3 linked regions of the Homo sapiens genome follow. The gene in region 1 interacts genetically with each later gene. Each region holds a gene or a part of one and is shown in the gene's direction. Other genes may lie near its edges.

Evidence for each region.
Region 2: changes in CHEK1 (region 1) and USP11 are lethal when combined (synthetic lethality), as found in Homo sapiens cells (one large-scale study listed by BioGRID).
Region 3: changes in CHEK1 (region 1) and ATM together harm fitness more than expected from each alone (negative genetic interaction), as found in Homo sapiens cells (one large-scale study listed by BioGRID).

What each region holds. Positions count from the first base shown.
Region 1 is NC_000011.10:125,635,097-125,638,750, forward strand, and holds part of CHEK1 (serine/threonine-protein kinase Chk1), read left to right. Parts: intron 1-332; coding exon 333-437; intron 438-2,352; coding exon 2,353-2,448; intron 2,449-3,654. UniProt on the Homo sapiens protein: Serine/threonine-protein kinase which is required for checkpoint-mediated cell cycle arrest and activation of DNA repair in response to the presence of DNA damage or unreplicated DNA.
Region 2 is NC_000023.11:47,239,380-47,243,033, forward strand, and holds part of USP11 (ubiquitin carboxyl-terminal hydrolase 11), read left to right. Parts: coding exon 1-102; intron 103-410; coding exon 411-528; intron 529-925; coding exon 926-1,071; intron 1,072-1,207; coding exon 1,208-1,269; intron 1,270-1,394; coding exon 1,395-1,497; intron 1,498-1,897; coding exon 1,898-2,071; intron 2,072-2,161; coding exon 2,162-2,320; intron 2,321-2,702; coding exon 2,703-2,927; intron 2,928-3,059; coding exon 3,060-3,143; intron 3,144-3,246; coding exon 3,247-3,341; intron 3,342-3,654.
Region 3 is NC_000011.10:108,365,936-108,369,625, forward strand, and holds the end of ATM (serine-protein kinase ATM), read left to right. Parts: 3' UTR 1-3,167; downstream 3,168-3,690.

The sequences.
Region 1 (3,654 bases):
ACAGATGCACACCATCACGCCCAGCTAATTTTATTTATTTTTTGTAGAGATGGGGTCTCACTATGTTGCCCAGGCTGGTCTTGAACTCCTGGGCTCAAGCAGTCCTTCTGCCTCAGCCTCCCAAAGTGCTGTGATTACAGGCCTGAGCTGCCATGCCTATCCTGATTCATCTATCTTTGAAGTGCCTCTAAAGTTTCCAAGTTGGGATTCTTAGTGTGAAAACCATATTGAATTAATTCAAAGGAAACTTTTCATGGATTTATATTATTATTTTTCCTTGAAATCTTTATAATAAGAACATTTAAAAAAACTGGGACTTGCTTTGTTTTTAGAATTGCCATGGGACCAACCCAGTGACAGCTGTCAGGAGTATTCTGACTGGAAAGAAAAAAAAACATACCTCAACCCTTGGAAAAAAATCGATTCTGCTCCTCTAGGTAACTGAATTATCTTGAGTGAAAGAGTACCGATTTCTTGGATATGAAGTCTTGTGCTATTTGAATTTTTTCTTACTTTTTTTTTTGTTTTAAACTTACAAATAATTCATGTTCGTTGTAGATAAAATAGTAACTATAAGTAAAAAATTAAGGAAAAAATAACTCTTTAGTCCCAGAACTCTGCAATAGATTTTTAAAAATATTTTGGGGAGTGTATATTCAGAGCAACTTGAATCTGCTCTTAGATGGCTTTTTACTTAAAGTTTTCATATGTGCTATACTTTGTTGCAAATACACTCGTTTGTTGCTTAATTATAGGGATGCACTCTAACAAATGTTTCATTAGGTGGTTTCATCATTGTGTGAACATCATAGAGTATATTTACATAAATCTAGATAGTATAGCTTACTATAAATCTAGGCTATTTGGTATACCCTATTGATCTCAGGCTGCAAACCTGTACAGCATGTTACTATACTGAGCACTGTAAGGAATTGTAACATAATGGTATTTGTGTATCTAAGTATAGAAAAAGTATAGTAAAAATACAGTATTATAATCTAATGGGACTGTCTGTTATACGTGTGGTCCATTCCTGACTGAAACATCATTAATGTGGCCCATAAGTATGTAAAATGAATATATGTATATTATTTATATGTGTTTTTATACAAAATGAGATCACACTAATAATATTTTGTAACTGTTTTTGGTTTTAGTGCGCAGCGAACATTCTTCCATGACTATAATTGTAGGTCTACATCGTTGGTTTAAAGGCTGTGATAATATTCTGCCATGTGGATATGCCTTACTTTACTCTTTTAATCACTTTGTTGGAGATTTTTCTAAATTTTCACAGATACAAAAGAGATATAAGTATCTGTGTAACTTAATCATGACACATACCCTTAAATTGTTCATTGAAATCCCCAGAAGCAAAATTGCAGGATCAAGGATGTAGTTTTTATTATTATGGCTTATTTTGTCAAATTGCTTCCCGAAAGTTCGAACCATTTCATCACAGTCTCATCAATTTACATTAAGGAAAAAAACTTTAAATAATAGTTTTTCATTTTTATTTTAAATTTAATACTAATGAAGTTGTATACCCTTTATGTATGTATTAGTTTTTTGTCTATTTTGCTCATTTTTGTCAAGGATATTGTTTTTCTTACCACTTTGAAGCTTTTTTTTTTCCTTGATAACACATTGACCTTTGCACTTGTTACAAATACTTTTCACAATTTATCATTTATTTTCATTTTGTTTTGCTATATTGACATTCAAATCTATTATCTTGTCCTTTGTGGTCCCTGACTATAATTTCTTTGGAAAGGTCTTCTACCTCTACTATTTAAAAGTTCCCTATGTTTTCATTTAGTGTTTTTATGGCTTCATTTTTCCATTTAAATCTTTGGTCCATTAGGAAATAATCTTCACATAGGAAGATACGTGAATTTTTTCTCAAGAAAATTAAGATACCTTAGGATGGTTAGTTAGATTACTGTCTCTTAAAAAGTTATTGGTAAGTAAATGTTCATTATAAAACTGTGTGAATAAGGAGGTCACGTGAGAACATGACATTGAAGTAATGAAATTCGGTATTGAAAATGGATAAGAGGGGTTTCTGTATCTTTTTGTTAATCTCGTCACATGAGGAGAAACATTTCCATCTGGCTCTTGTTCTCAGTTGCAAACAATTGAGAATCAGATCAGGGAAGACTACTCCAAGATACAGCAGCAGAGAAAAACTGCATGAAATTAAAGCAGTAATTTAGTAGCTTTAATTCTTTCTCTTCCCCAGGAATAATATTTAGACATAAGTAGGCTAACAGAAAATGTGTTTCTTACCTCAAGCCATAGGCTTCTCTAACATGATTCTTTCGTGAATGTTGTCGTAATGTTTGTTTTTAGCTCTGCTGCATAAAATCTTAGTTGAGAATCCATCAGCAAGAATTACCATTCCAGACATCAAAAAAGATAGATGGTACAACAAACCCCTCAAGAAAGGTAATATCCTTAAACTACAAGTTTGTTTGTTTTTCTGTGGAAGAAAAGGTAATTGCAAAGTTATTATCACAAGTCAACAACACATGATAGCTATGATCTCTGTCCTCATGGAGATTATAATGTCCAGTAGAAAAAAATACAGAAATAATTTTGTTTATTAATAATTATAAAGGGGAAAGTCAGGGTACTATAGCTAAGTGTTTGACCAAGTCTAAGGGACAGGGAAGACTTTTCTTCCTGAAGAAATTACATTAAATCTAAGATTTGAAGATTAAAGGGAAGCTAGGCAGGCAAAGTAAGTGGCAGATTTGATTCTGAACAGGGGAAGCAGTATTTGAAAAATCTTAGATTTTAGAAAGTCTGATGCTTTTGAGAAACTTGAAAGATCAGTATGGCACAAGCCGTGTCTGTTGTGTTCATCATTGTATCATCAGTGCTTTAGCACAGTATATGGTGCACCATAGGCACTCATTAAATATTTGTTGAGTGAGTGAACAGGGAAGTGGGAGAGGAAGACAGGTTTGAGATGAGGCCAGAGAGGTCGCTAGTGGCCAATTTGTGGAAGAAGACCTTGTAAGCCATGTTAAGGATTTTGGGCTTTAACTTAAGACCACTGGGGAGACCTCTGAGAGATTTTAAGCAAGACTATGACATAGTCATATCTTCGGTTTAAAAATATTTCTCTGACTTCCTTATTTTTTTTCCATTGTTTTTTATGAATAGGGAAAGATTCAGGGTGCTGTAGGTTTTTCTGCTAGTTGTCTAGAAGTGGGAGGCTGGTGGCTTGGAATAGGTTAGGGCAATGGTATTGGAGAAATGAGATGATTCCAAAGAAATTTAAGAACTAGTATTGATAGGACTGTTAGGCTGTGAATGGAAGGAGAGAGGACAATGACTAGAGATGATGAATGAAAAACATTCAGAGAGTTATTAATGTTTAACTCTGTCCTCATGGATAGAAAAGAGTTAATGTTTAAACATTCACTCTTCTTTAATACCTCTCTGCATGTTTCTTCCTCCTTGTCCTAACTTAAAGTCCAATTCTCCCCTGAGGACACTGCTTCCTCTGAAGCGGTAGGTGTTTTCTTTCCCATACCCTCATGTCCTTTGATCTGGACATGGTACAGGTGTCCTCCTTATTCTTCATTGTCACTTTCTCCCATCTTCCTTTATGTCTCTCCCCTCTAACTTTTGAACCCCAAATTA
Region 2 (3,654 bases), on another chromosome or scaffold:
CTGGTGGAAGGCGAGGATTATGTGCTGCTCCCAGCAGCTGCTTGGCATTACCTGGTCAGCTGGTATGGTCTAGAGCATGGCCAGCCACCCATTGAACGCAAGGTATAATGGATGGGGAGGGTGCATGGCGGGGAGTGCGTAGTAAGAAAGCCTTGTAGGCCCAGCATGGGTACAGATCCATGTATGCTGGGTAGGTACACATATGTCTGCTCTCTTCCCCCTCCTAGCTCATCATACAGGTATCTTTGTCTGCTGTGTGTGTTCCCCTGTGTGGCTCTCTTTACAGACCATTGTATATGTGTGTTTGTATGCTATGTTTGTAAGGCAGAGTGTGTGCTCCTCTCATTTGAGAGGTCACAGCGCTGTGTCTGTGTGAGTACACCTGTGTCTGCACCCCTCTACTCTTACAGGTCATAGAGCTGCCCAACATCCAGAAGGTCGAAGTGTACCCAGTAGAACTGCTGCTTGTCCGGCACAATGATTTGGGCAAATCTCACACTGTTCAGTTCAGCCATACCGATTCTATTGGTGAGTCTAAGGGTCACGCAATGGGTTGGTGTTCCTAGCTACTAGTCCCAACTCAGTGACTTGAGGTTGCATAGGGTTAAGCTGAAGCTGACTGAGAAGGCACTGGTCAGACTTTGGAAGACCCAGAAGGCATTGGCTAAGTTGGGTGGAGGCACTGAGGGGATCTACTAGAGCCCTGAGGGTATGTGAGCTACATTCTAGTGGCTTACGTGGTGTGGCAGAGGATATTTGCTGGAGATCTCCAGTCTGGAGTGTGGGCCAGTCATTTGGAGACTGATTGAGGACACAGGTATTGGCCAAGCATGTGAGGTCCGTAGGGATGAGTCAGGTATGCCCAGATGGATTGATCATTTTGGGTCTCACAAAGATCTTGAATGTACTCCATCACCCCGCACAGGCCTAGTATTGCGCACAGCTCGGGAGCGGTTTCTGGTGGAGCCCCAGGAAGACACTCGGCTTTGGGCCAAGAACTCAGAAGGCTCTTTGGATAGGTTGTATGACACACACATCACGGTTCTCGATGCGGCCCTTGAGACTGGGCAGGTAAGGGTGGGGAGGGCTTTTCTGTTCAGGTGGACTGGCAGATAGACTCACCTGGCAGTACTCGGGGGAAATGAAGGCTAGGTACCCATAATGTCCTCCATTAATACCTTTCCTTCTTTCTCTTTCTCCAACCCAGTTGATCATCATGGAGACCCGCAAGAAAGATGGCACTTGGCCCAGCGCACAGCTGCATGTCATGTGAGCCCTTGGGGTATCTGGTCCAGAGCGGGGGCGTCCCACAGTAGGCAAAATGATTTAGCCCATGAGCACATTGCACCCCCATGCAGCAGGCCCTCAGCTGACAGTTTCTCATCTAACCCCAGGAACAACAACATGTCGGAAGAGGATGAGGACTTCAAGGGTCAGCCAGGCATCTGTGGCCTCACCAATCTGGGCAACACGTGCTTCATGAACTCGGCCCTGCAGGTTGGGCCATTATAGTTGTGTCTGGCACAGCCACGTGGTTGGGCTTCAAGAGCTGAGGATTGGGGACAGAGCTGGGGTCCTGAGGGGACTACAGGGCAAGGGGTCAGGATGAAAGCTGAGGCCCCACAAGTCTGAAGTGGCACGCCCACGTTCATTCCTGAACTATCAGCCTCTTCTCTCAGCTTGCCCTCATTTTCCCTCTTCTCTTCCCTGTTCCCACGTTCTTCCTTCTCGTGAAATCCTAATGCCTTCTCTCCCCTACTCTCCTGCTCCTCTCTCTCCTCCCTTCCCCTTCTCTCTTGTTTTCCTCTCTCTTTCCTCCTGGCTTCTTTTTGTGTATCCTCACTTTGAACCTTCTGTCTCCCCTCTGCCTCATTCACCTGGTCTCTGGCCTCTGCAGTGCCTCAGCAATGTGCCACAGCTCACCGAGTACTTCCTCAACAACTGCTACCTGGAGGAGCTCAACTTCCGCAACCCACTGGGCATGAAGGGTGAGATCGCAGAGGCCTATGCAGACCTGGTGAAGCAGGCGTGGTCTGGCCACCACCGCTCCATTGTGCCACATGTGTTCAAGGTGTGACTCAACCCTGGGCACCCCCGACCCCCTACGTCTCTTGGCTCTCCTAACTCCCTCTCTCTCTGATGACCCTGCCCATCTTCTTAGAACAAGGTTGGCCATTTTGCATCCCAATTTCTGGGCTACCAGCAGCATGACTCTCAGGAGCTGCTGTCATTCCTCCTGGACGGGCTGCATGAGGACCTTAATCGGGTGAAGAAGAAGGAGTATGTGGAGCTGTGCGATGCTGCTGGGCGACCGGATCAGGTAGGCTGCCCCCGCATTTGCAGTCCAATTAACATCACCAAGGCCTCTGCCTCGGGGATTTTCTGGCCTCCCTGGGGTATCTAACACGCCACCATTTTCTGTTAAGTTTCTCTACCTGACCTCAACTCCAGCCTTACTCTTAACCTTAGTTGCAATACCATATCTGCCCCCACAGTCAACCCAGAGTAAACCCCAGCGCAGTCTCCTGCCCTAAATGACCCCCAGTCTTGACCGTGAACATAGTCTCTGTGTATCCCTAGCTGGAGCTCTGCCTCTGGACTTTAGCAGTGGCCTTCCGCTTCACCCCATTTGAATGCACCCCAAGCCATGGTTTCCTCTTACCCTGGGCAAGCCCCACCACCCACCATGACACTATCAACAGGAGGTGGCACAGGAGGCATGGCAAAACCACAAACGGCGGAACGATTCTGTGATCGTGGACACTTTCCACGGCCTCTTCAAGTCCACGCTGGTGTGCCCCGATTGTGGCAATGTATCTGTGACCTTCGACCCCTTCTGCTACCTCAGTGTTCCACTGCCTATCAGCCACAAGAGGGTCTTGGAGGTCTTCTTTATCCCCATGGATCCGCGCCGCAAGCCAGAGCAGGTGTGGGGCAGTGGGGGCCTGGGGAGATGATGATGGACACATAGAGTTTGATTAGCTGCCATAGCTCAAGGCTTCTTGCATTAACTCACCACAAGCCCTTTTGGTCTTTTGTGGATACCGTTTTTCCCTTAGCACCGGCTCGTGGTCCCCAAGAAAGGCAAGATCTCGGATCTATGTGTGGCTCTGTCCAAACACACGGGCATCTCGCCAGAGAGGGTGAGACTGCAGAAGGAGGCTGGATGGGATTCCAGGGCAAGGAGGCAGAAGGGCCTGGGAGGCCGTGCAGACTAACAGTCCCCTCTCCATATCCCATTCCTAGATGATGGTGGCTGATGTCTTCAGTCACCGCTTCTATAAGCTCTATCAGCTAGAGGAGCCTCTGAGCAGCATCTTGGACCGTGATGATATCTTCGTGTGAGTGGGGATGGCAGGGAGGTGGTGGTTCCTCAGGAACTTGGTCCACTTCCTTTTGTATGGTCCTGCCTTAACCACCTTCTCTCTTCCCTGCCTCTGCCTCGTTCACTGGGCACCTGCCCTGCGCAGAGCTTCAGCCACATGCCTTGGGAGGCTGAGGCAGGAGAATCACTTGAACCCGAGAGGTTCAAGTGAGCCAAGATCACGCCACTGCACTCCAGTCTGGGCGACAGGGCAAAACTCCATCTCAAAAATAAATAAAGCCGGGCGCGGTGGCTCACGCCTGTAATCCCAGCACTTTGGGAGGCTGAAG
Region 3 (3,690 bases), about 17 Mb from region 1:
GGAGAATCTCTTGAACCTGGGAGGTGAAGGTTGCTGTGGGCCAAAATCATGCCATTGCACTCCAGCCTGGGTGACAAGAGCGAAACTCCATCTCAAAAAAAAAAAAAAAAAAACAGAAACGTATTTGGATTTTTCCTAGTAAGATCACTCAGTGTTACTAAATAATGAAGTTGTTATGGAGAACAAATTTCAAAGACACAGTTAGTGTAGTTACTATTTTTTTAAGTGTGTATTAAAACTTCTCATTCTATTCTCTTTATCTTTTAAGCCCTTCTGTACTGTCCATGTATGTTATCTTTCTGTGATAACTTCATAGATTGCCTTCTAGTTCATGAATTCTCTTGTCAGATGTATATAATCTCTTTTACCCTATCCATTGGGCTTCTTCTTTCAGAAATTGTTTTTCATTTCTAATTATGCATCATTTTTCAGATCTCTGTTTCTTGATGTCATTTTTAATGTTTTTTTAATGTTTTTTATGTCACTAATTATTTTAAATGTCTGTACTTGATAGACACTGTAATAGTTCTATTAAATTTAGTTCCTGCTGTTTATATCTGTTGATTTTTGTATTTGATAGGCTGTTCATCCAGTTTTGTCTTTTTGAAAAGTGAGTTTATTTTCAGCAAGGCTTTATCTATGGGAATCTTGAGTGTCTGTTTATGTCATATTCCCAGGGCTGTTGCTGCACACAAGCCCATTCTTATTTTAATTTCTTGGCTTTAGGGTTTCCATACCTGAAGTGTAGCATAAATACTGATAGGAGATTTCCCAGGCCAAGGCAAACACACTTCCTCCTCATCTCCTTGTGCTAGTGGGCAGAATATTTGATTGATGCCTTTTTCACTGAGAGTATAAGCTTCCATGTGTCCCACCTTTATGGCAGGGGTGGAAGGAGGTACATTTAATTCCCACTGCCTGCCTTTGGCAAGCCCTGGGTTCTTTGCTCCCCATATAGATGTCTAAGCTAAAAGCCGTGGGTTAATGAGACTGGCAAATTGTTCCAGGACAGCTACAGCATCAGCTCACATATTCACCTCTCTGGTTTTTCATTCCCCTCATTTTTTTCTGAGACAGAGTCTTGCTCTGTCACCCAGGCTGGAGTGCAGTGGCATGATCTCAGCTCACTGAAACCTCTGCCTCCTGGGTTCAAGCAATTCTCCTGCCTCAGCCTCCCGAGTAGCTGGGACTACAGGCGTGTGCCAACACGCCCGGCTAATTTTTTGTATTTTTATTAGAGACGGAGTTTCACCGTGTTAGCCAGGATGGTCTCGATCGCTTGACCTCGTGATCCACCCTCCTCGGCCTCCCAAAGTGCTGGGATTACAGGTGTGAGCCACCGCGCCCGGCCTCATTCCCCTCATTTTTGACCGTAAGGATTTCCCCTTTCTTGTAAGTTCTGCTATGTATTTAAAAGAATGTTTTCTACATTTTATCCAGCATTTCTCTGTGTTCTGTTGGAAGGGAAGGGCTTAGGTATCTAGTTTGATACATAGGTAGAAGTGGAACATTTCTCTGTCCCCCAGCTGTCATCATATAAGATAAACATCAGATAAAAAGCCACCTGAAAGTAAAACTACTGACTCGTGTATTAGTGAGTATAATCTCTTCTCCATCCTTAGGAAAATGTTCATCCCAGCTGCGGAGATTAACAAATGGGTGATTGAGCTTTCTCCTCGTATTTGGACCTTGAAGGTTATATAAATTTTTTTCTTATGAAGAGTTGGCATTTCTTTTTATTGCCAATGGCAGGCACTCATTCATATTTGATCTCCTCACCTTCCCCTCCCCTAAAACCAATCTCCAGAACTTTTTGGACTATAAATTTCTTGGTTTGACTTCTGGAGAACTGTTCAGAATATTACTTTGCATTTCAAATTACAAACTTACCTTGGTGTATCTTTTTCTTACAAGCTGCCTAAATGAATATTTGGTATATATTGGTAGTTTTATTACTATAGTAAATCAAGGAAATGCAGTAAACTTAAAATGTCTTTAAGAAAGCCCTGAAATCTTCATGGGTGAAATTAGAAATTATCAACTAGATAATAGTATAGATAAATGAATTTGTAGCTAATTCTTGCTAGTTGTTGCATCCAGAGAGCTTTGAATAACATCATTAATCTACTCTTTAGCCTTGCATGGTATGCTATGAGGCTCCTGTTCTGTTCAAGTATTCTAATCAATGGCTTTGAAAAGTTTATCAAATTTACATACAGATCACAAGCCTAGGAGAAATAACTAATTCACAGATGACAGAATTAAGATTATAAAAGATTTTTTTTTTGTAATTTTAGTAGAGACAGGGTTGCCATTGTATTCCAGCCTTGGCGACAGAGCAAGACTCTGCCTCAAAAAAAAAAAAAAAAAGGTTTTGGCAAGCTGGAACTCTTTCTGCAAATGACTAAGATAGAAAACTGCCAAGGACAAATGAGGAGTAGTTAGATTTTGAAAATATTAATCATAGAATAGTTGTTGTATGCTAAGTCACTGACCCATATTATGTACAGCATTTCTGATCTTTACTTTGCAAGATTAGTGATACTATCCCAATACACTGCTGGAGAAATCAGAATTTGGAGAAATAAGTTGTCCAAGGCAAGAAGATAGTAAATTATAAGTACAAGTGTAATATGGACAGTATCTAACTTGAAAAGATTTCAGGCGAAAAGAATCTGGGGTTTGCCAGTCAGTTGCTCAAAAGGTCAATGAAAACCAAATAGTGAAGCTATCAGAGAAGCTAATAAATTATAGACTGCTTGAACAGTTGTGTCCAGATTAAGGGAGATAATAGCTTTCCCACCCTACTTTGTGCAGGTCATACCTCCCCAAAGTGTTTACCTAATCAGTAGGTTCACAAACTCTTGGTCATTATAGTATATGCCTAAAATGTATGCACTTAGGAATGCTAAAAATTTAAATATGGTCTAAAGCAAATAAAAGCAAAGAGGAAAAACTTTGGACAGCGTAAAGACTAGAATAGTCTTTTAAAAAGAAAGCCAGTATATTGGTTTGAAATATAGAGATGTGTCCCAATTTCAAGTATTTTAATTGCACCTTAATGAAATTATCTATTTTCTATAGATTTTAGTACTATTGAATGTATTACTTTACTGTTACCTGAATTTATTATAAAGTGTTTTTGAATAAATAATTCTAAAAGCATATACTAAGACTCATTCACTTTATTCAAATATTTGTGTGTTCTGTGTGCCAGGCATGGGACTCGTTCTAAGGAGAAAGCAGTGAGCAAGGCAGGCATAGTCTGCCTATATAAAGCTCCCAATCTGAGGAGGATAGGCAACTGACCACGCAGTGTGAACCGGGGAGCCTATTGCACAACCAGTCTGATAATGCTGCATCTCAGTCTAAATATCCTAGTAGTGTTTCTTAGTCGCCTCCTGACGAAAAGGCAAATATGAATGTTCTTTCTTTGGGCCTAGAAAGTGATCTAGTTGACATTTCTAGCCTAAAAGATCTGTACTAGAATATGACAAGTGCAAAGATCCTGGTATCCTAAATGCAAAGTTTTTTACCTGTTTATCATATTTTTAAAATAAATTCAGTCCTCTGGAGTTTTAGTCTCTTTTGCCTAGATTTTAACAAAATGCATTTTGCATAAATATAGTGGAGTCAAAGTTTCCACAAAGATTATAATGACTCAGAATTTGGTAAGTAAGGAGATCTCAT